Linked DNA regions of Homo sapiens: all the other regions are linked to region 1. Evidence: fine-mapped expression QTL. A gene starts in region 1. Each other region holds a variant in brackets. All regions are shown on one strand. Distances are between the middles of the regions. Region 1 holds the start of ATP10D (ATPase phospholipid transporting 10D (putative)). Region 2 overlaps ATP10D (ATPase phospholipid transporting 10D (putative)). Region 3 overlaps ATP10D (ATPase phospholipid transporting 10D (putative)). Region 4 overlaps GABRB1 (gamma-aminobutyric acid type A receptor subunit beta1). Region 5 overlaps COMMD8 (COMM domain containing 8).

Region 1 (5,136 bases):
TAGAGTAACAGCTTAATAAATACTTTTGATTAAATGAATTTTATATATTTATTTCAAAATTATATTTTACACATAAGATAATATATTAAATTTCACTTTTTTACAGAATACATTGCAAGTATATTTCCAAGTCATTAAATTTTTAAAAAACTTTTGTAACTGAGTTTTATCAATATAGATACATAAACTACACTAATTTATTTAAATATTTTGTTATTGGGGCTTTGTTTCCATTTTTTGTATTACAGATAAGATGGTAATAAACATTTATAAATCTTCATATGCGATTCATATTATTTCCTTAGGCTATATTTTTAGACCCAAGATCACTTAGTCAAAGGCTATGAACATTCACAGGTTTTGTTTTGTTTTTGTAGAGATGGGAGCAAAATGGGACCATGCAGATACTTGAACCCTTGAGCTTAAGGGATCTTTCTGCCTCAGCCTCCCAAAGTGCTAGGATTACAAGCATGAGCCACTGTGCCTGGCCCAACATTCACAGGTTTTAATACATAATACCACGTAATTGCCTCAAATAGTTGTATTGATATACCTTTTATTGAGTAGCATTAAAAAAATTCCATTAAGGCCACAACTCTTTTACAAAACTAGCATCACTGTTAGTCCTTATTCTGCAAAGCGATAAAAAAGTATTGTTTCTATGGCTAAAATGATTTCTGAAATGAAATAAATTTATCTAAGAAAATATCGAAGGAATAACTGACGAGGAATAGTGATAGCATCCAGCACACATATATTTATTCCTAGAGTTGATAAATCAATTCTCCTTTTCTTCAAGCACTATTAAATTTATATTTATCAGTGCATTGTTCTGTGAGAATTCTCAGACAATCTTACTTGTAGCATTTTCTTTGATTCTTCTTCATTAGAAGAACTACTTCCAACTATATCAGACAATAAAGAAAACATGTAATGAAGGCTTGAATATGTGTACATTTTTTTAACCCTTAATTTAAAAAGTCAATTATAGGAAGTACATTTGTCTGACAGGTGAGTCACCTCTGTTCTATTATAAATTATAATCATATTTGAGCATTTCCCTTCGTTTTACTGACAATAGCAAAATAAATGAGATTCTATTTTTTTTTTTTTTTTTTTGGGGGACGGAGTTTTGCTCTTGTTGCCCAGGCTGGAGTGCAATGGCCCGATCTCGACTCACAGCAACCTCCGCCTCCCGGGCTCAAGCGATTCTCCTGCCTCAGCCTCCCGAGTAGCTGGGATTACAGGCATGCACCACCACGCCCAGCCAATTTTGTATTTTTAGTAGAGACGGGTTTCGCCATGTTGGTCAGGCTGGTCTCGAACTCCTGACCTCAGGTGATCCGCCTGCCTCGGCCTCCCAAAGTGTTGGGATTACAGGCATGAGCCACTGCGCCCGGCCCTATTCAATTCTATTTAGTCACTAAGTATGAAAAGTATTCAGGTTTTGCTAAGCCAGGGTCAAACACTCCCCACATCCTAGTTTAGAGTGCTTAGATTTTCCCTCTTTTTCATGCAATTTAATGAATGTTAAATTAGCATGAAAATTAAATGTTATTTTTAAACTCCCTAAAACTTTAAAATGTTGCTAAGTTATTTTTCCAAATGTATAAAATGACCTCATTTTAATAAAAATAAACTATCTCAATGTAGGTATATGATACGTATTTGTAGTGAGAATAGAAAACAGTCCAGAAGAAGCAGTTATTACTTTTTGAGGTGGATCGGAGTGGGAGGTTCTTGCTGCGGGCACTGAACAAACTACTCCGTTGCAATGATTTTTGCTCTTCACAAGTCAGCAAGGGTTTTCGATGATGCTATTCTTCACAGAAATGTGACCTACATGATTTAAAGGCTGATACAAGTAAATATTGGTGGATGAGGAGCCCCTGTCCTTGTTGATGCATCTCTCAAGGTTGATTTTGAGTTAGAGGTTTGCTCTGTCCATACAGACTTGTTTTTCTCCCTGCTTAGAACCAGCATGAAAAGAACGCAAGAAGAAACTTTGGTCTTATTCAGATCACATTTTAAAAACCTGAGCTAGCATGATAAGAGCAGTTAAAACATATTCTTTCTAAAGGCACAGGGTCCCAGACACCAAAATAACCATCCATTCCCTAACCAACTGATGTCTCTCTGCTGTACGTGGTAAATTAAAACTACATGTTTTACAACGTAAAATAAAGGGTGCCCCGAATAACAACTAGGTTCTTTAAAGTTAGTGTTTTGGGGGAAGCATGGGGGCTTCTTTGTAGCACTCCTTTGAAAACTATTTCCGAGAAAGCTCCAATACAAACACCTTTTTCTTCCTAAGGAATCAACCTTAGGGAATCAACCTTAAGGAATCAATCTGCTGGGCTAAATCTTCAACACCTTCCCTTTTCATCACCTTTGAGGCAGATAACCAAAATTTCTTTAAACTGCTTATTTCACAACGGGATGACAAAGGAGTGTGTGTGTGTGTGAATGCGTGTGTGTGCGTGCCCGTGTATGCCCGCGTGTACAAAGGTGTGTGAGAATGCGTGTATGTACGTGCCCGTGTGCGCCCGCGTGTGCAGTTTACCTTTTTACAAAATCCAGCATTTAAAATAGATTTTTAAATTCCCCTTTAACAAATGATTGAAAATGGTGTAATCATTTTATCTTTTGTTGTTTTTTTTTTTTAGTTCAGTAACAGCCCAGAACTGTAGTTTTGAGCCATGTCATCAAATCTAAACACGACTAGGGAAGTGGAGCGGGGAGAAACAGGAGAGAGAAACAGAAAGGAAAAGCGGGTGGGCGGTGAAGCAGAAGGCTGGGACAGTCAGAGGGATTCGCCGTCTCACTCTTACCAATTCCTCCCTCGGCACACATCACAGCATGTTGGTCACGAGTCGCAAGGTACAAGAAAAGAGCTAAGCACAAATTCGAAGAGTGAAAGCGGGTTGTGCTTCCACGCCAGCCATTTGCCTTCCGGGAAAAAAAAAAAATCACTTAGACATCTCCCAAACTCAGCTGCGGGAGCCAGCGCCGGAGCCTGTGCTGAGCTCGCAACCTACTTCTCCCTCCGCTCCTCCTCCCGTCTCCGCCAGGCTGCAGAGCAGCCCGAGCTGCAGTGCACCGCCAATCGCCCACCGCCCCGCCCTCCGTGACGTAGCAGCGGCAGGGCCTGGCAACTGACCGGCTCCCAGCTCCAGCTGTTTGACCGAGCTGCCCTTCTGCCCAGCGCAGATGCCCCAGTGACCCAGAGCCCTTACAATCTCACCTCTGACTTTCACCTCCCAAGTACAGGTTGCTCGCGGTTGACGGTTTGGTTCATTGTTTTGCTGCAATTCTAACAATTCACTGTTTTAGCTAAACGTGGAACACTGGACAATTATTTTTTGGAGGGTAAAAGAGATCAAATCTAAAAATGTCGCGCCACTGCATTCCAGCCTGGGCGACAGAGTGAGACCCTACCACAAAATAAATAAATAATATGTAATGTTACTGTTTTTATGACTAGAAAAGAAATGAGGAAAAATATTACAATTCTGATTTGGTCGTTTTCCTCACACCTTGCCCTTCCGTTCCCTTACTCAGGATAATGTGGCTTTGTCCATACACCTGCCAAGGTCCGTTTGCTTAAAATTCACAACTTTTTTTAAAACTTCTAAATAAGTTTCAACAACCTGTCTGGTTTCTCAAAATGTCTAATTTGGAAAGAGGAAAAGCCATTTAGTGAAGGCCGAACCAATAACTCAGAACAAAACCTAATAATCTTGGCTGCCTGTTTTATCCCATTGAAACAAATATAAAAAGTGGGGCCAAACTCTCCACAGCTCTCCTATATTGTGCCTCTCTCTTCCATTCTCTCAAGTGTTTCTCAGATGTGCAACAAGAGTGAAGAAAACTAAATGAGCATGCAAATGTTTGACTATTAGTAAAGAGCTCACCAGTACAGACACAGGGAGCTGGTTGGTCGGCTTGAAAATTCTCTCAGACCAAGAGAAGCCAAACAAGTTTCTGCACCCACTGAGAACGTGCTTCTGCCAGACGAGGAGAAACAAGTTCTGGGTGTGGCTTCCTATGATGCTCCATTAGGGAAGCCTCCATCTGCAGGTAAGGACAAATCTCTAGAACTTAGTCAAACTTAATCCCCAGAATTAACCCAGCCTAGTAGAATACACTGTCATTTACATGGCCTCTGAAATTCCTGGCCCTAGTAGCACTTTTTGCAGTCATATGACTGTCTCTAACATCCTTTAAGATGAAACACATTTCCTATCTGAGAGTCAACCTTATAGAGGAGACTTAAAACTGTAGCTGGGCCCCCCTGAGCTCTCCCAATCAAACACTGGTGTTGTTACCTCAGCAGAGGGCCTTCCTGGGAACGTACATACCAGGACAATTCAGGCATGTAGCCTGTTTGGATTGCTTAAATCAGTGGTTCTAACTAGCTACACATCAGAGTGAACCGGGGAGCTTGATGCCAAGGCCCCACCCAGGCCAATTAAACCAGAATCTCTGGGGGTGGCGCTATGGCAATGTCTTTTTTTCAAGCTCCTCTAGAAATTCTAATGTGCACAAGGGTTGAGAATCACTGACTAAGATTTGAATTATTGTCTTAGAAGAAAATCTATTATATTTAAGTCTAAAGAGCATAGTAGTAGAATAATGGAAAACATTATGTAATACAACTTAGCCTTATACATATTCTTTATATATTGGTTTATTTTAATATAAATATAAAAACGTGAAGATACACCTCAAAATTGTTTACTCAGGGAAGGATAGTGAGGGGAGATTACTAGCTTTCTATTTGTGTCTGTCATTTGAATGAAATTTGTATCATTTTGATAATTTAAATATTTCTAATCAAATTTTTAAAAATCAATACTCATAAATACCATGAAGGTCATTGGAATAACCACTATTAAGGTGGGTTTCTATCAATTTATTAGGTTTTGTTGTGTTTGGTGTTTTCTTTTTGCAATGCTTCTGTAATATCCAATTTTCTCCTCAGAGTGATTCCTATTTTGAAAAAGACAAAATACGATTCTTAATTTAAGACATTAGCTACTTTAAATCTATATAGTAATTTTTAATTTAAAAGATACTTACTTTCTTGTAATTTCAGAAAGGTTTTCTTTTTTGCACTTCTCAGGAAGTTTTTTA
Region 2 (5,136 bases), 57 kb before region 1:
CCACTTAGAGAGGCCTTGCCTGACCCTCCAGTTCAAAGTGGCCATCCAATCATTTTATATTATACCACCTTATTTTAATTTTCTACCAAGTACTTATCGCTAATTTTTTTCTTGATTTAAAAAAGTAATATATTTGTGAATATTTTCTCTAATAGAAACTCTATGAGAGCAGGGGCCTTATGTGAATTGTTCAGCATTGTATCCAGTGTCTGGAATATAGACCATCGATAAATAGGTGCTTGTTGGATTGCCAGTCTTCTCTATTTAGCTATAGGATAAAGTATGGCTTTGGGTAAGTTATTCTATGAAGTGAAGAATGTTTGCACATTCTATTTTTTTGTAATAGTTTTTGTCTGTATTCTTTAAGGACAAGGAGAGGCTAAGGGTCTATGTGGTGATCCTAGGTTCCAGTACCAACTTTTTCAAAGACTAAGTGGCTTTCAGCAAAATCACTTGCTGTTTCTGGGCCTTTGTTTTCAGAATGAAACATTTCAGAATGAACGATTTGGATTCGGTGACTTTAAGATCTTTCCCAGCTCTGCAAGTCTCATCATATAATCTGCCTAAACAACACGGAATGTTTCCCAGTATGACCTTCCAGCTTCAAAAACTGGTTTACATATTGTGTCCCAGAGATTCTGATCTCCTCCATTTTCATCTATGCCTTTGCTTGAAATATTCATTTGCGTCCTTTCTATTTACATAAATACTGAACATCTTTAGAAGTTTAGTTCAAATGCCAGCTCCTCCACAAAGACCTCTGTAGCTATACTGACTCTTACTCATACCACTCATTGGGAATTTATAGATTACATGTGCAGAATGTACCAGGCATTTGCTTATGTACCAGGCACTTGCCTCATTTAATCATTATATCTCAGCAGATGCTATTAATACCAGCATTTTACAAATAAATAAACTTAAGTAATTTGCCCCATCTCACAAAAATGGTACAAATTAGTCTTAAAATCAGTTCTATTAAACTCCACAGCCCCATGCTTTACTGTTTCTGAATCTACCTATATATGTTAACAGGGCCAATTTTTAACACATGGCCAATATCCCCTGCTTAATTTCAATGAGTCCATGTTTTTTCATTTAAATAAAAATTTATTAAATGAATAATAAATGAATGAATCAATAGACATGTCAATGAAATATCCCTAGTATTAAGGGAAAGTTGTGGGGTAGGAAGTTAATATTTTTTGAGATCCTCCTTTTTTCATGCATATATATATGTGTGTGTGTGTGTGTACATAATATATATGTATACCTATTTCCTTTTTATCTTCAAAATAATGCCATCAGGTAGAAACTATCACTGCCCACTCTGCAGCTGAGGAGATTAAGACCCAGAGAGATTAAGCAGTTCAACCATGATTAAACAGCTAGTTGTGGGTGGAGCTGGAAATTCGATTTAGGTCTTCTGCCTCCAAAGCCAGCACACTACCCACTATATTATAGCTCCTCAGCAGTGATTTGTATATAATAAGTTGGCTCAGTGGTTCTCCACATGGGGTGAATTTGTCCCCTGGGGGTTTGGCAATGGCTGTAGATACTTTTGCTTGTTATAACTGGGTGAAGTGTGCTGCTGGCATTCAGTGGGTGGAGGCCAAGGATACTTCTAAACATCTTACAATGCTCAGGACAGCCCCCAACAACAAAGATTAATCTAGCCCAAATAGTGCTGAGACTGATAAATCCTTGAGTAGCTCAAGGAATTTATTGATGACGTAACACCATTTAAAAAATATTTTAAAAATACAGAAGTTTCCCCTTTTTCACAGGGGATATGTTCCAAGACCCCCAGTGGATGTCTGAAACCACGGATAGTATTGAACCCTAAATATACTATGTTTATTCATATACATACATACCTATGATAAATGTTAACTTATAAATTAGGCATAGTAAAAGATTAACAACAATAACTAATAATAAAATAGAATAATTATAACAATATACTGTAGTAAAACTTA[T/C]GTGAATGTGATCTCTCTTTTTCTCTCTCAAAATATCTTATTTTACTATACCAAAGGTAATTGAAACTGTGGAAAGTAAAACCACAGATAAGGGGGTAATACTGTACTTCAAAACACATATAAACATGGAGGCTATATTTAATGATCGTGTAACTCCTAGCCATCATTAGGGAAATCAGTCGTCATGCAACTATATAATTAGTATAGTTCCAGGTAGCTCAGCTATTACTGTAGGGAAAACTTGTTCAGTCAGTACAATTGCAAAAGTGGAATCAAGAAGATATGAAGTGACTCAACCTTTAATCATTTTGTGGAAGCTATGAAAAGGAAATAGGCCAGGCCCGGTGGCTCAGGCCTGCAATCCCAGCACTTTGGGAGGCCGAGGTGGGTGGATCACCTGAGGTCAGGAGTTTGAGACCAGCCTGGCCAACATGGCGAAACCCCATCTCTACTAAAAATACACAAAATTAGCTGGGTGTGGTGGCGGGCACCTGTAATCCCAGCTACTAGGGAGGCTGAGGCAGGAGAGCTGCTTAAACCCAAGGGGCAGGGGTTGCAGTGAGCCAAGATCGCACCACTTCACTGCAACCTGGCGAGACTAGACTCCTTCTCAAAAAAGGAAATAGACCAGTAAAGTTACAATGTGATTCAGAAAACAAAGCTACTGGAGCTATAATTCCAGGCTCAGTGAGAATTTTATAAAAATTAGGTGTGAAGCCAGGTGTGGTGGCTTACACCTGTAGTCCCAGCACTTTGGGAGGCCGAGGCTGGCAGATAGCTTGAGCCCAGGAGTTCGAGACCAGCCTGGGAAACATGGCGAAATCCTGCCTCTACAAAAAATACAAAAATTAGCCATGCGTGGTGGCATGTGCCCATAGTCCCAACTACTTGTGAGGCTAAGGTGGTAGGATCACTTGAGCCCAGAGGGTTGAGGCTGCAGTGAGCTGAGATCATGCCACTGCACTCCAGCCTGGGTAACAGAGTGAGACCCTGTGTTAAAAAAATATATTGTATGAGAAACAAAGGTTTATTATAATATTGATAAAACTTATCCAAATCGTTATGACTTTTAATATTTCTTAGTATTTCTTTAATATTTCTTAATACTTACCTTAAGGTAGACTCCAAAATAGTTACATGAATGCCTCAAAGCAGGGCAGGAATTCTTACTTTTTGCTTCATAAGAAAAAACTTACAAAGTCTATTCTTTCCTTTGTCTGAAGGTAGATATTGAGATAGGTACCAAATTGTCTACTTTATTTCTCTTCATTATTTAATCCCCGATCTGTCTTTTCTTCCCATTCCCCTCTTCAAATACCCAGTAATCTTCCTATAGCCTGTTACTTGCATCAATTTGATATATGGAAGAAGTGGGCATGAGTCTACAGAACAAAAAGTTTATCATACTTTCAATGTGCTCTCCAAAGGGCCCGAAACAAAGGTGAACAGCATTCAGATGAGCTTCCTTCAATTGTATCATCAATCCTCCATCAACCCTTTCACTATGAACTAAATCTGCAAACATTTCCAGCATTCCAACTTTTGCCTGCTTGTAAATAACACACTCAGCTAAACCTCCTCCAACTGTATCACCCATATATCCTTGATATATAAACCTTTGTTCTAAACAAATTCCCCATACAATTCCAGCATCGTAAGAACATCCAGTATCTTGGCTTCAACATCCCAAGCCTTAATCAGTGCAAAATCCACCTCCAATACTGACTGCCTGAAAATCAAAACAAAATGGAACAAGAACACTGACTTTATATCTTATGACAATGAACATGATAATTTATGTTTACATATCTGCCTCCCACATCGGACCATGAGCTCCTTAAGAGATAGGCCTATTTCTTATTTTAACAATATTTACAACAACAACAACAGTAACAACAGCTATATTTATAGAGAACTCATTTTGTGCCATTTGCTGTTCTAAATTCTTTATGTGAATTATCTTCTCTCATTCTCTTAACCATCCAATGAGATAGATAGTGTCATTGATCCTTTTTATTGAGGCACAGAGAAATTAGATAGTTGTTAAGGGCCACACAGCTTGTAGGTAGTGGAAATGGGATGCAGACTCAGGAGGCCTGATTCCAAAATCCTTGTTCTTGAAAAGTGTTCAATGCTACTGCCTCCATGTAAATCAGATTCACAAATTGTGCATCATAAATGTATACTCTGGACAAGCCCAAATTGATGGACATTCTACAAAATCCCAGAATAATGCCACTCAAAACTGCTAAGTTTATCAAAAGGAAAGAAAATCTGAGAAACTGTCACCTAGAGAAACCAAAATGATGGCTGTTATGCAGCATCCTAGCTAGGATCCTGGGACAGAGAAAGAACATTAGGTAAAAATGAAGGAAGTCCAAATAAAATATGGGTTTCAATTAATAATAATGTATCAGCATTTGTTCATTACTTATCTCAAATATATCATATGACTAATGCAAGATGATAACAGCAGGGGAAACGGCATGAGGGCATGCTGGAACCCTCCAGGATATTTTTGTAACTTTTCTGTAAATCTAAAATTATCCTAAATTTAAAAGTTTATTTTTAAGAAAGTCATTCTCTTTAAAGTCTTTTAAAGGAGTGGCTTGTTAAAATTTTAATATGCATATTAATCACCTGGGGATATTATTAAAATGCATTTAATTGAAGCTCTGAAGAGGGGTCTGAGTTTCTGCAATTTAAAAGCATGCCCGGGTGTTGCTGATGCTGCCAGTACATGGAACACATTTCGAAGCTAGAAGGTTTTAAAATATACAATGGTGTTGTCAGGTGTGTTTAGTGCAATTCCATGTGTGAGAGGTTGTTTCCAAGCAGCAATATTCTTCACCAAATTGTCTCCTAGGCAACACTTTTGCAGAAAACCCTAAAGGACTAGCCATTAAAACACAGATACACTGTTAAAATAGTTTTCACTTCAGTGAAAATATGCCTCAGAATTAATTTCTAGAGAGAACTGGTCTCCACTAGTTTGTGTGTGTGTGTATACACATGTGTTTAATTTTAAACCACTGCATAAAAAAGACCAGAAGCTCTAGGTGTGTCTATGGTAGAGAAGTGGTCAAAGGCAAAGTTAGTACCTCTAGAACTTTGGTTCCCAAACAGGTAGCTTATCAATTACAGTTCAGTCAGGATA
Region 3 (5,136 bases), 77 kb before region 1:
GTGATCCTGAAGAAAAGCTCCACAAGATTTCAAAGAAGGCAGACTGCAGTGATGGGATTGATATCACTGGTTAAGTCTGACTGCTGAAGAAGAATGGGAGGAAGTTTTTCAAGAAAAATAAACAATGTGCACAAATCTTGGAGGGGATCACTATACTGGAAGGCTTCTGAGAAAAATAAAACCCTTATTTATCTGATTAAACATTGGTGTTAGAGATTAGCGGGAGGCAAAAATAGAAAAAACTGGGCTGAGTCTAAGCCTCCTAAATTTCCTTCTTTTTTAAAAAATGACATTTTCCTCTTCCCTTAAACAGTTCTTCAAACTTATGATATTCTCGGGAGCACTACCTAGGAATTACCACAAGAGGGCACGATTTCCCTGAGTCTATTTTTAGAATTGCCATAAAATATTTAATAATTTATTCACCTGATTTCAATAAAAACTATCACTTTTTCTTATCTTAAAAGGGAGGTAGATTCCTGTACCAGGACTTGATATATTTTCTCATTTTGGGCTAAGTCCTGTCAGATCCCTGGTAATCCAGTGTGGAGGGGGGAAAGCAAATAAAAAAAAAAAACTTTCTTCTAATGCCTTTATTCAGCAATGATTCCTCTGAATCATTATAATTTTCCATCAGGCCTTTAGAAGAATAGACATCCTTCCAAGCACAAGGTAGGTTTCTGGATAGAAAAAATTATCAAGAAGCTAATGGTTGCTGGCCAGGGCACAGTGGCTCACCCCGTAATCCCAGCACTTTGGGAGGCCAAAGCTGGCGGATCACTTGAGGTCAAGAGTTCAAGATCAGCCTGGCCAACAAGGTGAAACCCCGTCTCTACTAAAAATACAAAAATTAGCCAGGCGTGGTGGCAGATGCCTGTAATCCCAGCTACTTGAGAGGCTGAAGCAGAATTGCTTGAATCTGGGAGGTGGAGGTTGCAGTGAGCCAAGATATTGCACCACTGCACTCCAGCCTGGGTGACAGAGCAAGATTCCGTCTCAAAAAAACCAAAACAAACAAACAAACAACAAAAAAAGCTAACGGTTGCTGTTTTGTTTTTTTTTTAATCCTTGCATACATCAAATCTCAAATGTTCCAATGCCTTTGAAAATACAGAAGAACAGATTTAATCTCAATATACGCACTTTACTTTGGGTATTGAGGATAAAAAGCTTGTCATCTGGCTCCAGTAGTTTGCATGCATAAGCTATGTTGACAGCTGTCTCCTGCTTGTCCCCTGTCAGCATCCAGATCTTGATGCCCGCTTTGTGAAGAGCTTCTATAGATTCAGGGACTCCCTCCTGCAGACGGTCTTCAATGCCAGTAGCACCTAAAAAATAACCAAAGTGCAATAGGACTTGTAAGAAACCAAAGCCAGCTGAAGCTCAGCTAGTCTACAGTTGAATCATATCTGTTAGCCAACTCAACCCTACACTACATAAACTGCCCAGCTGCTCAGGAGAGTCAAAGGAGGTTTGACGACCCAGACCAAAATTATATGCAATGTAATATTTTGGGAAGGAAGCCTCAGGGATCAATGGATTTATCAAACTTACTCGTTCTCCTTTTGGCTAGATTTCTTATCTGTAAATTGAAGGGATTTGAGTCAATTATTTATGCAACCTTACACTACAATTTTATAATTCTATGATATTCCCAAGGATAAGGGTGGGATTTTATTTTTATTATTATAGACTTAGGGGGCACAAACGCAGTTTTGTTACACTGATATATTGTGTAGGGGTGAAATCTGGGCTCTCAGTGTAACCATCATGCAAATAGTGTAAATTGTACCTGTTAGGTAATTTCTCATCCCTTGCTCCCCGACCTATCCTCCCACTTTTCTGAGTCTCCAATGTCTACTATTTCATTTTCCATGTCCATGTGTACATGTTATTTAGCTCTCACTTATAAGTGAGAACGTGTGGTACTTGACTTTCTGTTTCTGGGTTATTTCACTTAAGATAATGGCATCCAGTTTCATCCATGTTGCTGCAAAAGACACAATTTCATTCTTTTTTATGGCTGAGTGGGATTCCATTGTGTATATATGTGTGTGTGTGTGTATATATATATATTATATCACATTTTCTTTAATCGTTTGTTGGTGGACACTTAGAAATCTGATTCTGTGACTTTGCTATTGTGAACAGTGCTGTGATAAGCCTATGATTGCAGGTACTTTTTTGATATAATGATTTCTTTTCCTTTGGGTAGATACCCAGTAGTGGGATTGTTGGATTGAACGGTAATTCCATTTTCAGTTCTTTGAGAATCTCCACACTGTTTTCCATAGAGGTTGTACTAATTTACATTCCAACCAGCAGTATATAAGCGTTCCCTTTTCTCTGCATCCTTGCCAACATCTGTTGTCTTCTGACGTTTTAACAGACATTCTGACTGGTGTAAGATGGTATCTCATTGTGGTTTTAATTTGCATTTGTCTGCATCTGATAACTAGTGATGTTGAGCATTTTTTCATGTTTGTTGGCCACTTGTTGTTGTCTTCTTTAGAAAAATGTCTGTTCATGTCCTTTAAAGGGCAGGCTTTTAAAGAAT[G/A]CTCCTGCCAGTAAGATACAATGTCTATTTGCAGTGTTCTTTCATGGGTCTACAGTTCCCTTTTCTGAAACAATTGGGGCCATATGTGTTTTGGAATTCAAACATTTTTCAGATATTAAAAAAGTAATATGGTGCATATACCATATTCTATAATACTTGTTAATCAAGCATATTAATATTTCTGCAGGAAAACTGACAAATGTTCACCTAAATTAGGATAATAACTATAAATAGTCTTATATCAAATCAGGTATGATTTTTCTGCCAAATGAGTTTTGGCACTAAACCCATGGAGCATTTTTGATTTTGGAATCACAGATGAGGAAATGTGGACCTATACTACTTACACTGTCACAGAGAAATCACTTAGGGTAGGCATCATTGCTCTATTTGCTAGATACTAAGTTAGGTCAATGTTTTCCTCCTAAATAGAGGAATGGAGCTCAGAAGCTGGTATCTTGGTATATCAGAGCTTATATTAGAATCTAGATCTCCAGACTCTAAGACAGTGGTTCTCAAACTTGACCGCCTTTAGCATCACTTTAGGGAGCTTTAAAAAATTCCAATGCCCAAGCCACACAACAGATCACTTGAATCAGAATCTCAGGGGATAGGATGCAGGCATCAATATTTTTTAAAGTGCTTCAGATAATTCTAAGATGCAGTTTAATCCAAGACAAGAGGGGTCAGTTGTGCAATTTTAGTTGAAATCAGGAAGAGAAGAAAAATAAATTTCCTTAGTCCAGTAGCAGGTGCAGGATAAAAAGCTTGGAGCCAGGCAAACATGAGCTCCATGTTTGGTTAATGAGTAACTGTCAGCTACTGGCATGTGACCTTGAACAAGTCATTGAACTGCTCTGTGCCCCAAATTTCCTCTACATAAGATAGAGATTTGTTGTGAGAATTCAAAAAAAAGATAACACGTATTAAGCACCTTATCCAATGCCTGACAAGAAACTCTATTCTTGATATTTATCTTGATTTGAACCAAGATATTTATTGGAACATTTACTTGGCTTTGTAGTCTATGTTAAGTGTTGGATTTTACATGATCTTCTTGGGGTGACCATCCTGACCCCATCACAAGTGAAGTCTAGTTCACTGCAGTGGACAACAGAATAGAATGGATTGGAAGTTGGATAGAGATCAGACTGGACAGGGTAGGCAGAACCATATATGTTTATTAGATAACAATGGAAGAAAATAACCCTTATTCAAAGATATCCAGTGTTTTTCAAAATCCTCCATTCAGGCAATACAAACATAATTCACCTACCAAGTAATGTAAGTTTGTTCTCCAACCTCATGGCAGATTCAAGTAGTAATTCTTCCCTGTTGTCAATGCTGGTTTCAGCTAAAAAATGATTCCTCAGCCACTCTGCATATTCAGTGTCACTCATGACCTACGGGAAGAATTAAAAGAGAGGTATGAAGCAAGCCATATGATCTTGTGGGAATACCAGGACTGACCTCTGGCAAAATATCAAACCATCAACTTGTTTTACATATTCCTCCCTCTGGGCACAGCCATGTCAGATCCATATCCTCACACCACCTGGACACTAGCTTCCCAAACTCTGTGGTCAGACTAGTGCAACACTGATGATGGATGACCCTTTAACTCAGCATCTCTGGAAATTCTAGGCACCATATATGATGACAGTGGGTTAATGTCTTTAATTAAATCAGAAAGTATGCAGTTGGGAGTGGTCTCCAATTGACAGTTAAATCCAGTTTGATTCTAATGGTGCAGTTGAGAAAGTGGTATCAGGACTGTTTAGTTCGAAGGATTCTGTAACCAGCAGCACCTTTCATACCTTTTGATGTTTTTTTTGTTTGTTTGTTTTGTTTTGTTTTTGTTTTTGAGACAGAGTCTCGCTCTGGCCCAGGCTGGAGTGCAGTGGCCTGATCTCGGCTCACTACAAGCTCCGCCTCCCAGGTTCACGCCATTCTCCTTTGATGGTTATTTTATGTGGTTAATGAATGGTAAAAAGAGAAGGGCCCTATGGGTGAAACAAGTCTTATTCCAAAGAAAAATTGAATGAAATTCCTGGGGAAGTGATCAATAATATATTTTCCTTTGTCTTTAGGTTGCCATAGAAAGAGAAATCTACATTTCAGTTTTTATAAAGCAGAGTGGAGTAAAGCAGGTGAGGCAATTCCCCTCTCTGCCTACTTATTCTTGGCCACAGGTCATTCGATTTGAGAGAATCTGACACCTGTTGGGCTACATTTTAATCAAGGGTAGGATCATTCAATTGAAAAGGCAGAGTTGGTTTGATCTTGAACTCTCCATTCTTCCTTTAACTGTGTGTGGGGCAGGCTTTTTGTTTTTGGTTTTGTTTTTGTTTTGAGATGGAGTTTTGCTCTGTCGTCCAGGCTGGAGTGCAGTGGCGCAATCTCAGTTCACTGCAACCTCTGCCTCCCAGGTTCAAGCAATTCTCCTGTCTCAGCCTCCTGAGTAGCTGGGATTACAGGCATGCACCACCAGATCCGGCTAATTTTTGTGTTTTTAGTAGAGACGGGGTTTCACCATGTTAGCCAGGCTGATCTTGAACTCCTGACCTCAGGTGATCCAC
Region 4 (5,000 bases), 74 kb after region 1:
GCTACCATTTCAGCCATTTCATTTATTTGCAAATGGAAAGGGATTGTGGCCAGAATATATAACTGAAAAAGTTCCAGATGCGTATAAAAGTGGCCCAGAGGTAGCTTACTTAAAGCCTCGTTGTACTGTGAAATCTATCTTTCAAAACTCTAAATACCATCTCTATTTTCAAATGATGCCTGAGGGGCTTATGAATCTACAGTCTTTATCACCTTAGAGGTTGAAACTCTCCGAATGTCTGGATCTAGCATCTGCACTGAAATAAAAAGATGCTTCAGAGCAGCTGGAGGAAATATAAATCAAGACAAAGCAAGCACTCCTGAAGCTTCAGTACAAATACCCCTTGACCTGACTGCCCAGCCAGAGCGATCAAAAGTAATGTGTAACAACTGAACAAGGCCACTCTATGCTCCAGTGAACCAAGGCAAATACTGAGGAAATCCCTCAAATGAAAATTGTCTGGGACCAGGGCACAGATGTCATTTAAATTTAACTGTTTACAAGCATCTAAAAGTAGAGGATCATCCAACCATTATATTTAAAAAAATTAATAGTCTTTTTTATATTTTTGAGTTTAACTAGCAGGTAGCAATTTAAAATACCACACAGTTTGCATTATTAATGTAACTGCTGAAATGACACACTGAATAGATGAAGTAAATACTTGCTTTGTTATTGACATATTATCTGTCTGGACTTTTGGTTTTAGAAGAGGATAAGAAAGTTAGGAACTACCAAACCTAAGCAGGTGCAGGGATGATTATAACTTGCATGAGATGGTAATGCTGTATTATTATCCCACCTAAATATGAAGAAGTTTATAAAATTGATACAGGAGATAGAAATAAATTATTTAGACAGATAGTAAGGGCAACAGAGACCTCGGCGGAATTTCTGTTTTAACAAAAAGCAGCCCCCAAATCATTTCTTTTCTAACAAAGAGCAGTCTGAAAAATCAAGCTGTAGACATAGATAAGCAAGTTGGAAGCTTTCACGGTGAATGCTGGCAGCTGTGCCAGTAGAAAAGGGCTACCTGGAAGCCAGGTATGTTCAACATGAAGGCTCCATCTTCCCTTTCCTTTTTCACCCGAGTACAGTACAGAGAAGCAGGCAACATGGCGCCAGCCAGGTAGAGAACCAACTTGCATAATAAAAAATTAGAGTGGGGTGGCCAGCTTTTTCACATGCTATGCAAATGGCACATCTAGCCTTAACCAGTTTTTTGAGCCTTATGCAAATGGAAGACCTGGTCTGACCAATCTTTCATGCCCTATGTAAATTAGACACTACCTCCTCTTATTCAGCTGTAAAACCCATTGCATTTCACCACAGACCAGAAGACCTGCTTGGGACCCCTCTCTCTGCAGGAGAGAGCATTTCTCTTTCTTTCTCCTATTAAACCTCTGCTCTTAACCTCACTCCTTATGTGACCGCATCCTTGATTTCCTTGGCGTTGAGACAATGAACCTTGGGCGTTACTCCCAGACGAACAGTGCCATTTCAAAATCTTAGCCATAATGCTCCTTTAAAGATTACATGTAATGCTATATGGCACAGTGATTCAAAAAGAATACCAGAGGTTGATATAAAGCATGTTTAAATTTTTTTTTGAAAATAAAAATGATAGGAACAGTAAGACAGTCTGGAGCAGAAGCTGAAGTGGAGTATAGTCTCTTTTTCTTACTTATTATGAATATGTACGAGTTTTATAAAACATAGTGTAACACTGAATGCGTGATTTCTAAAAACATCTAAAATGGAGAACAACTCTCCAGTATTAATTAATTAATTCATTCATTCAACAAGTACTTATTTGTTATCTACATTTTAGCTACTGAGGAAAGAACAATGAATGTAAAAGACAAGGGCTCTGGGGTGTATAATTGGGAAGCTGTAGCTTAAAAGGAGAAACAGATGTTAAAAGATAATTATACAAATAAACATATACTCACTATCATGGAAGTCTTATTGTGGAAAAGCACAGGATCCCATAAGAACAATTAACAGCGATACCAAATAATAAATCAAGAGTGAGAGTGTCTATTAAGGCAACCCCAAAGTAGTAGCATTTATGGTAAGAACTGCTACAATTGAGAAATTGAGAGAAGCCCAATATGACCTTCAATTTCGCTAATCATTTTTTTCTGTTGTATACAATGTGATGTTAATTCATCTAATAAAAATTTTAATTCTATGATTTCCATTGTTCCACTTTTATAGTTTCAACTATCTTCTGAAACTCCCCATTTCTTTATACACTATATCAATTTTTCCTACTGACTTTCTCTTAAACTTTTTATTTGGAAACTATTACAGATTCCCAGAAAGTTGTGAAGATAGCACAGAGGGGCCCCATGTACCCCTCACCCAGGTTCTCCAACTGATTACATCTTACATAACTATGATATAATATCAAAGTCAGGAAAGTGACATTGACATAAAGTGTGTATAGTTCTGTGTAATTTTATTGCATATGTAGATTCATGTAACAAGCATTCCAATTAAGTTACAGAACTATTCCATTACTGCAATGATCTCCCTCACACTAGTTCTTTATAATCAGTCATACCCATCCCACATC[C/T]TTCCTCACTATCACTGACTCCCGGCAACCACTAATCTGTTCTCCATCTCTATAATTTTGTTATTTCAAGAGTATTATATCAATGGAATAATACAGTATTATAACCTTTTAATACTGTTTTTTTTCACTCAACCTAATGCCCTTGAGAGACATCCAAGTTTTTGCATGTATCAACAGTTCATTTCTTTTTTACTGGAATAGTACTCCATAGTGTGTATATACCACAGTTTGTTTAACCATTCATCTATTGTAGGATATTTTGGCTGTTTCCAGTTTTGGGCTATTTCTTATGAACTTTAAAATACACTAATTATAGTTATTTATACTAATTATCTTTTAGGCCAATATTTGAGACTTTTACTGCTCTGTTTCTGTTGACAAATGTTTTTCTCTTGATGATGGTCACATCTTCCTGTTTCTTCTTATGTCTAGTAATTTTTTACTATATATTGGATATTTTGAATGATGCACCATAGAGACTCTAAATTCTGCTATCTTCCCCAAAGAATGTTGAGTTTGGTTTGGTAGGCAGTTATATGACTAACATATCATCCAGAATATGTGGAGACTTGGTTTTATGTGTCATTAGGGTGAGCCTATTTTAGATTTTCCCTTAACCCAAGGGGAATCCCTTATTCTTGTGACTTATCTTTACCCTTAAGGTATAAGCCTCTTGAGATTTTTATGGAAAACCTAATGTGCTTACCACCCCCACACTCCCCAACAGGCTGGATTCAAACTCCAAACTCTGACTTTTATATAGTGGACAGTAACTAAAATCTCTGTTCATTTTTCTTTCCCCCAGCTTCTAGCTATTTTTTCTTTCTGTGCTCCTTGGTATTTGTACATTTGTACATTTGTAGCTCAGGGATCAAGCTGGGGAAGTTTACACTCAGGTGTCGAGTTTCTGTTGTGGCTCACTTCTAAAATTTCCAGGAACTCTGGAACAATCAAACTCCATGATCTGACTCTTCAGGTCAATACAACTTCAGTTTCTGCTGAAGTTTTGCTGCCCCACATCCCTCAGTCTGGGACATGGCTTCAGGGGAAAAGCTGCATAAACATGGATTTCACACAGTGTGGTTCCTTCCTTTTGAAAGTTGATTCTCTTTTAGTTTTTGCTTGTTTTGTTACTCTCCCATGTCTTAAAGCAGATTTCTAAAAATGTGCTCACAGTTTATTATTTCTATCAATAGGAGGATTACTCTGATACAAAGTACTCTGCCCTGTTTTAATATGATTTGTTTTTGAATTTTGTCAGAATTATGTCTATTTTTCTGTGGAAATCATTTGTGGAGTTCGTAGTCTAACTTTCCATGGATAAAAACATATTTTAAAAAAATCTCCTTTAAGCATTGTCTTCTGACAGTTGAGGAATTTCTTTATTCGTTCTCCTTTAATTCAAAATTTAAAAAGTCAATTTACCAGGAATAAAAGTTTACTGATTCGAGAGACAATGAATTCTTACCACATTTAAGCCCAATGTTACTCAAACAGCCTGTTTATGAAATAAAGGTCAGTCAAATGGGAACATTTTACTTATTTATTAGCCAGTCATGAAGTCCTCTGCAGGACTTATACATCTAGATCTGACATGACATAGGCTTTCCTCCTGCCTTTATTCAATCTTTATCATCTTAAAAAATTTCTCTGATATCCTAGTGTGGAATCAAAAGCTGAAAGTGTTTGCTTAAAGTTTGTTTTGTAGTCTTTTTATTTTATCTGAATAAATTGATTCCAGTTTGCCTGATGTTTCATTTTGATATGGACAGGAGACAGGAAAATACTGGAAAGAAGGGGGTAGTTCCCCGGCAAAGGCCCCACCCTCAAGCATGGAACCCCACAGCTCTAAATGGGAACAGGCATTTCTGTTTTAGTGTCAAATATTGCCTTTTGGCCCACCATGCCCCCCATACTGTACCCATATAAACCCCGAATCCTGGGCTCCATGAGCAGAAGAGCAGAGGAGCAGAGGAGCAGAAGAGTGGCATAATAGAGAAGGAGAGAAGAGAAGGAGTGTCTGAATGTCGAGAGAAGTTTGGCTGGAGATGGTCGGAGAGATGGCCGCGGGATGGCCAAACTCCTGGGGAAGATTATCTTCCCACTCCAGCCTCTTTCCAGCTCCCCATTCATCTCACTGAGAGCCACCTCCATCCAGCAATAAGATCCTCCACATTTACCATCCTTCAACTTGTCCATGTGACCTGATTCTTCCTGGACTCCAGACAAGAACCTGGGTACCAAAAAGGCACTGAGCTGGTTAACACTTAAGCTGTCTGCAGATGGCAGAGCTAAAGGAGCACTGTAACACACCTACTGGGGCTTCGGGAGTCGCAGGCACCCAACTCTAGATGCTACCATGGGGCCAGAGCCCAAAAGTGCTTGCCCCGGCTCCCACACCTGCCCGTCTGCATGCTCC
Region 5 (5,136 bases), 37 kb after region 1:
ACATTTTACTTCTGCGCTTCTATGTTTGGGAAACATTGCTCTGATAAAAAATAGCTGTCATTATGCAGTGTGTATATTCAAATATGAGATAAGACTATGTACACATCCACTTTTGTTAATAAACTCAATATTGAATACTTTGGGATGTTAAATTCATTGGAAAAACAAACCATTTGTAACCTCAGTTAACTTTAACAACAAGCATTCTGAGCAAATGAAAAGTGTCTTGTTTTATTTTTATATATTGCTTTATTTTAAATGACTCCAAATAACTCAGTAGTTATACGTAATTATACGTAACTCAATAATACATAATTAATAGGTGCTTGCTATTTGCAAGCCATATGGCTTATTAGAGCATCAGACTATTCTTTGAGGCATCCGGAGCAATTATTACTATTCTCATCATACAGATGAGGATAGGCTTAGAGTGTTTTCTGAGTGTGATCTAAACAGTGCTACTCAAAATGTGTCTGCAGAGAAGTGCTTGTCTGTGAACTGTTTGTTACAGGTCAGTGATTCAATAAGGAGCTTGGGCCAGAAAGTGTATCAGTATACTGCTGTCTTCATCGAGAAATTTTGGTTTTAAAAAAATTATCAGCTGAAGGAAATAGTGTGCTTAGTGTGGTAGTTAATTTATCTTCTTGTGCAAGTTATTTGTTATGATGGGCCAGTGATGGTTTGTAGAACAGCACTTCGAGTAGCACTCATTGTGAAGTCTCTTCTAAATTTCAGCTTTCCATGCAGTATCTCCTTTACAAGAAAAACGTCTTGCTATAGTTAGTCTCTCTCTCACCACTTGGTAACACTCCATTAGCACATTCAGCAGCTTTATCGAAATTGAATCAGTATACTAAATACTGTGCATACTAAAGTGTGCAATGTGATATTTTGACATATACATATTTACATCCATGAAAGCATCACCACAAATTAGGATAATGAACATTTGATCACTCCTGAAGCTTTCCTCTTGGTCCTCTATAGTCCCTGTCCCTTCCATTTCCCACAAGTAACCACTGATCTGCTTCCTGTCACTATAGATGGTTGCATTTTTGGAAGTTTAGTATAAAGGAATCATATAGTGTGTAATTTTTTTTTAATCTGGCTTCTTTCAGCATTATTTTGCGTTTCATCCATGTTGCATGTATCCGTAGTTCATTTCTTTTTATTGTTCAGAAGTATTATGTTGTAGAGTTCTGCCACAATTTATTCACCTATTGATGGATATTTTGGTTGGTTCAAGTTTTAGGCATTAGAATACACAGAATGCTGCGAACTTTCTTGCATACATCTTTGAACGAACATATGCTTTTTTTTGAGCAAGTACTTTAGAATGAAATGGCTGGATGATATGGTAGGTTTATTTTTTCAAGATACTACCGAAATTAAAAAAAAATTTTATTTGAATAATTTTTGAGGGTACAGGTGGTTTTTGGTTGCACGGAGAAGTTATTTAGCGGTGATTTCTGAGATTTTAGTGCACCCATCACCCGAGCAGTATACTGTACCCTAAATGTAATCTTTTATCCTTCATGCCCCTCCCAGCCTTCCTCCCCAAGTCCACCATGTCCATTATATTACTCTTACGCCTTTGTATCCTCATAGCTTAGGTTTTCCATTCCCGAGTTACTTCGCTTAGAATAATGACTGTCAAGCTTTTTCAAAGTGATTTTAACATTTTGCATTTCCATTGCAGTCTATGAGAGTTCCAGCTCCATCTTGCCAACACTTGGCATTGCCAGTCTTTTTAATTTCAGTTATTTTAATATGTATTGTCTCACAGTGGTTTTAGCAATATTTAACAAATTTCCCTAATGACCAATGATGTTAAGCATCTTTTCATGTGCATATTTGCCATGTATACATCTTCAGTGAAGTGTCTGCTCAGATCTGTTGCCCATTTTTCAATTGGATTTTTTGTTTTCCTAGTATTGAGGTTTGAGAGCTCTTTTGACTTATTCTGAATACAAATCCTTTATTAGATAGATACTTTGCAGATACTTTCTTCTAATCTGTGGCTTATCTTTTTTCCCCCATGTAAATTGACCCTATATTGTTTTAGAACAGTTTTAGATAAACCAAACTTTAAGAGATAGTACAGAGTTTCTATATTATTAACATTTTACATTAGTACAGTGCATTTGTTATAATTAGTGAACTAATATTGACACAATGTTAAGTAAATTCTAGAGTCTATTCAAACAGAAAATTTCTAAGTTTTTCCCTAGTGTCCTTTTCCTGCCCCAGGATTCTATCCTAGATGCCGTATTACATTTAGTTGGCATGTTTTTGATGACCTTGACAGTGTTGAAGAGTGTGGGCGAAATACTTTGTGGGATGTCTCTCTCTGTTGGAATTTGTCTGATGTTTTCTTCATGATTAGACTTGGGTTATGGGTGTTGGGAAGGAAGATCACAGAGATAAAATGCCATTTTCATCACATCAAATCAAGGGTACATACTACTAACGTGATTTATGGCTTGATATTAATCTTGATACCTGGCTGAGGTACAGGTTTCTTCACTGTGAACTGACTCTTCATTTTCTCCTTTTCTTACTGTACTTAAGGAAATCACCATAGTTCAGCCCATACTTAAGGAGTGGGAAGGTGTGCTCTCCTTTTTGAGGCTGGAATATCTACATAAGTCGTGGAATTTTGTACCCATTTGTTTCTTTTCCACTATTGAGATTTCTACTTATTATCAGTATGGACTCATTTTATACTTTGGGTTATAATTCAGTACTGCTTTGTTACTCAAACTGTTCTAATGGCTTGGCCATTAGGAGCTCTTTCACTTGGCTCCTGTGTCCCTTTGACATATCCCCATCAATGAGGTTGGACTTTTTATTTTTTTCAGGGCGGGGGGTGCATCTTCTTTTTCTTTTTCATCTTGGAAAGTATTTTCTTACTCTCTGGCAGTGCAAAATGCCCCAGGCTCATCTTGTGTATTTCCTGTCCAATCCTAGAATCAGTTATTTCTCCAAGGAACTCTTGGTTCCTTTTATTGAAGAATGGTGTTAGAAAC[A/C]GAGCTAGGTATACTCATTGCTACTGAGGTGTTATTTCTTTTAGGCCCTTTTGGTGCTGACAGAACTAAGAAATATGTATGTGTATACCAACCTGGGTATATACTCATATCTATATTTATATTATCATACATATCTATATTAAGCTAAACAAGCTCATATTGATGTCTCCAACTCTAATCCATTACATGGATTATTCTAGCCTCCTATCCTTCCCTATCTACAAATTTCAGTTCCAACAATGAGAAAGGAGTTAATCCATTTTGAGCAGGTTTCTGTGTGTGATGTCAGATAAGGGTTAGGTTCATTATTTTATGTGTGGACACTCAGTTTTCACAACCCTGCCTGTTGAAACTATCCTTTCCCCAGTGTGTATTCTTGGCACCCTTGTTGAAGATCAGTTGACTATATTCATGTGGATGTACTTCTGGGTGCTCTATTGTATTTCATTAGTCTACATGCCTGTTTTTATGTTACTGCTTTGCTGTTTTTGATTTTTGTAGCTTTTTTCATACATTTGTAGGCCCCTGTCAGAAAGTACGAGGCCTCCAGCTTTGTTCATTCTCAGGATTTTGTGTGTGTGTGTGTGTGTGTGTGTGTGTGTGTGTCTACTAGGGGTCTTTGTGGTTCCTTTGAATTTTGGGGTTTGGGGATTGCTTTTTCCTATTTCTGTAAAAAATGCCATTGGGATTTTATAGGGATTGCATTGAATCTGTAGATTGCTTTGAGTCATGTGGATATTTCAAAAATATTGAATCTTTAATTCATGACCAGTGCTGTCTTTTATTTGTGTCTTCTTTAATTTCTTTTAGCAATGTTTTGTAGTTTTCAGTGTACAAGTTTTCTGCCTCCTTGGTTAAGTTTATTTCTAAATATTTCATTCTTTTTGATGCTATTGTAAATGGGATTTTCTTAATTTCTTTTTTGCCTTGTTCATTTTTAGTATATAGAAATGCAACTGATTTATGTATGCTGAATCTGTATTCTGCATCTTTACTGAATTCTTTTATTGGTTCTGACAGCTTTTTTAAATAAGGTTTTCTACACATAAGATTGCATCGTTAATGAACAAAGATAATTTTAGTTCTTTCTTTCTGATTTGGATGCCTTTGACTTCTTTTTATTGCCTAATTGCTCTAGCTAGGTCTTTCAGTACTGTATCGCATAGAAGTGGCAAGGGTAGACATCTTTGTCTTCCTGGTGTTAGAGAAAAAGCTTTCAGTTTTTCACTAAGTATGATGTTAGCTGTGGGCTTTCATATGTGGCCTTTATTATATTTATATAATTTTCTCTATTTCTAATGGTTGAAAGTGTTTTTTATCATGAAAAGGTGTTAATTTTTGTCAAATGCTTTTTCTGCATCTATTGAATTCATTATGTGATTTTTATCCTTTCTGTTTATGTGATTGATTGATTTTCATATGTTGAACCATCTTTGCATCCCAGGGATAAATTTCACTTGATCATCGCGTATGATTTTTTTTAATGTGTTGTTGAATTTGGCTTGCTATTGTTTTGTTGAGGATATTTGTACCTATGTTTGTTAGAGATATCGGCGTGTGGTCTTTTTTGTTAATATCTTTGTCTGGATTTAGCATCAGGATCATGGTGACCTCATACAATGAATTTGAAAGTGTTCCCTCTTCAGTTTTTTGGAAGAGTTTGAGGAGGATTGATTTTAATTCTTCTTTAAATGTTTGGTAGAATTTTTCAGTGGAACCCTCTGGTCCTTGACTTTTCTGTGTTGGGAGATTTTTGATTACTGATTCAATCTCCTTGCTAGTTGTAAGTCTTCATATATTCTATTTTCTCATGATTCAGTCATCGTAGGTTGTGTGTTTCTAGGAATTTATCTATTTCTCTTAGGTTATCTAAGTTGTTAGCCTATAATGGTTCATAGCAGTCTCTTGTAATCCTTCTTATTTCTGTGGCATCAGAAGTAGTATCCTCTGTTTCATTTCTGATTTTTTAATTGTGAATTTTCTTTTGTTCTTAGTCTAGCTAAAGATTTGTCAATTTTTCTATTTTCAAATAACCAACTCAGTTTCATTGGTTTTTATTTTGTTTTTATATTCTATATTTCATTTATTTATGCTTCAATCTTTATTA

The links. PIP is the estimated chance that this variant, and not a neighbour inherited with it, causes the effect.
Region 2: its variant is fine-mapped to the expression of ATP10D in lung (TOPMed, PIP above 0.99). The same link has a PIP of 0.9 or more in blood mononuclear cells, fibroblasts, monocytes, nasal epithelium and whole blood.
Region 3: its variant is fine-mapped to the expression of ATP10D in whole blood (TOPMed, PIP 0.95).
Region 4: its variant is fine-mapped to the expression of ATP10D in whole blood (INTERVAL, PIP above 0.99). The same link has a PIP of 0.9 or more in neutrophils.
Region 5: its variant is fine-mapped to the expression of ATP10D in whole blood (TOPMed, PIP above 0.99).

The regions. Positions count from the first base shown.
Region 1 is chr4:47,483,215-47,488,350 of GRCh38, reverse strand. ATP10D (ATPase phospholipid transporting 10D (putative)) reads right to left here and starts at 3,076. Exons shown (of 23, transcript NM_020453.4): 1 at 2,832-3,076. RefSeq lists enhancers at 2,904-2,973, 2,945-3,239.
Region 2 is chr4:47,539,955-47,545,090 of GRCh38, reverse strand. The region is part of intron 9 of ATP10D (ATPase phospholipid transporting 10D (putative)); the gene reads right to left. Among named protein-coding and RNA genes, the nearest start is that of ATP10D, 57 kb to the right of the region's middle. The variant T/C (reference allele first, on the strand shown) is at 1,980.
Region 3 is chr4:47,559,773-47,564,908 of GRCh38, reverse strand. It overlaps ATP10D (ATPase phospholipid transporting 10D (putative)), which reads right to left. Exons shown (of 23, transcript NM_020453.4): 14 at 3,834-3,960; 15 at 1,144-1,328. Among named protein-coding and RNA genes, the nearest start is that of ATP10D, 77 kb to the right of the region's middle. The variant G/A (reference allele first, on the strand shown) is at 2,558.
Region 4 is chr4:47,409,087-47,414,086 of GRCh38, reverse strand. The region is part of intron 8 of GABRB1 (gamma-aminobutyric acid type A receptor subunit beta1); the gene reads right to left. Among named protein-coding and RNA genes, the nearest start is that of COMMD8, 52 kb to the left of the region's middle. The variant C/T (reference allele first, on the strand shown) is at 2,582.
Region 5 is chr4:47,445,872-47,451,007 of GRCh38, reverse strand. It overlaps COMMD8 (COMM domain containing 8), which reads left to right. Exons shown (of 5, transcript NM_017845.5): 5 at 1-221. Among named protein-coding and RNA genes, the nearest start is that of COMMD8, 15 kb to the left of the region's middle. The variant A/C (reference allele first, on the strand shown) is at 3,030.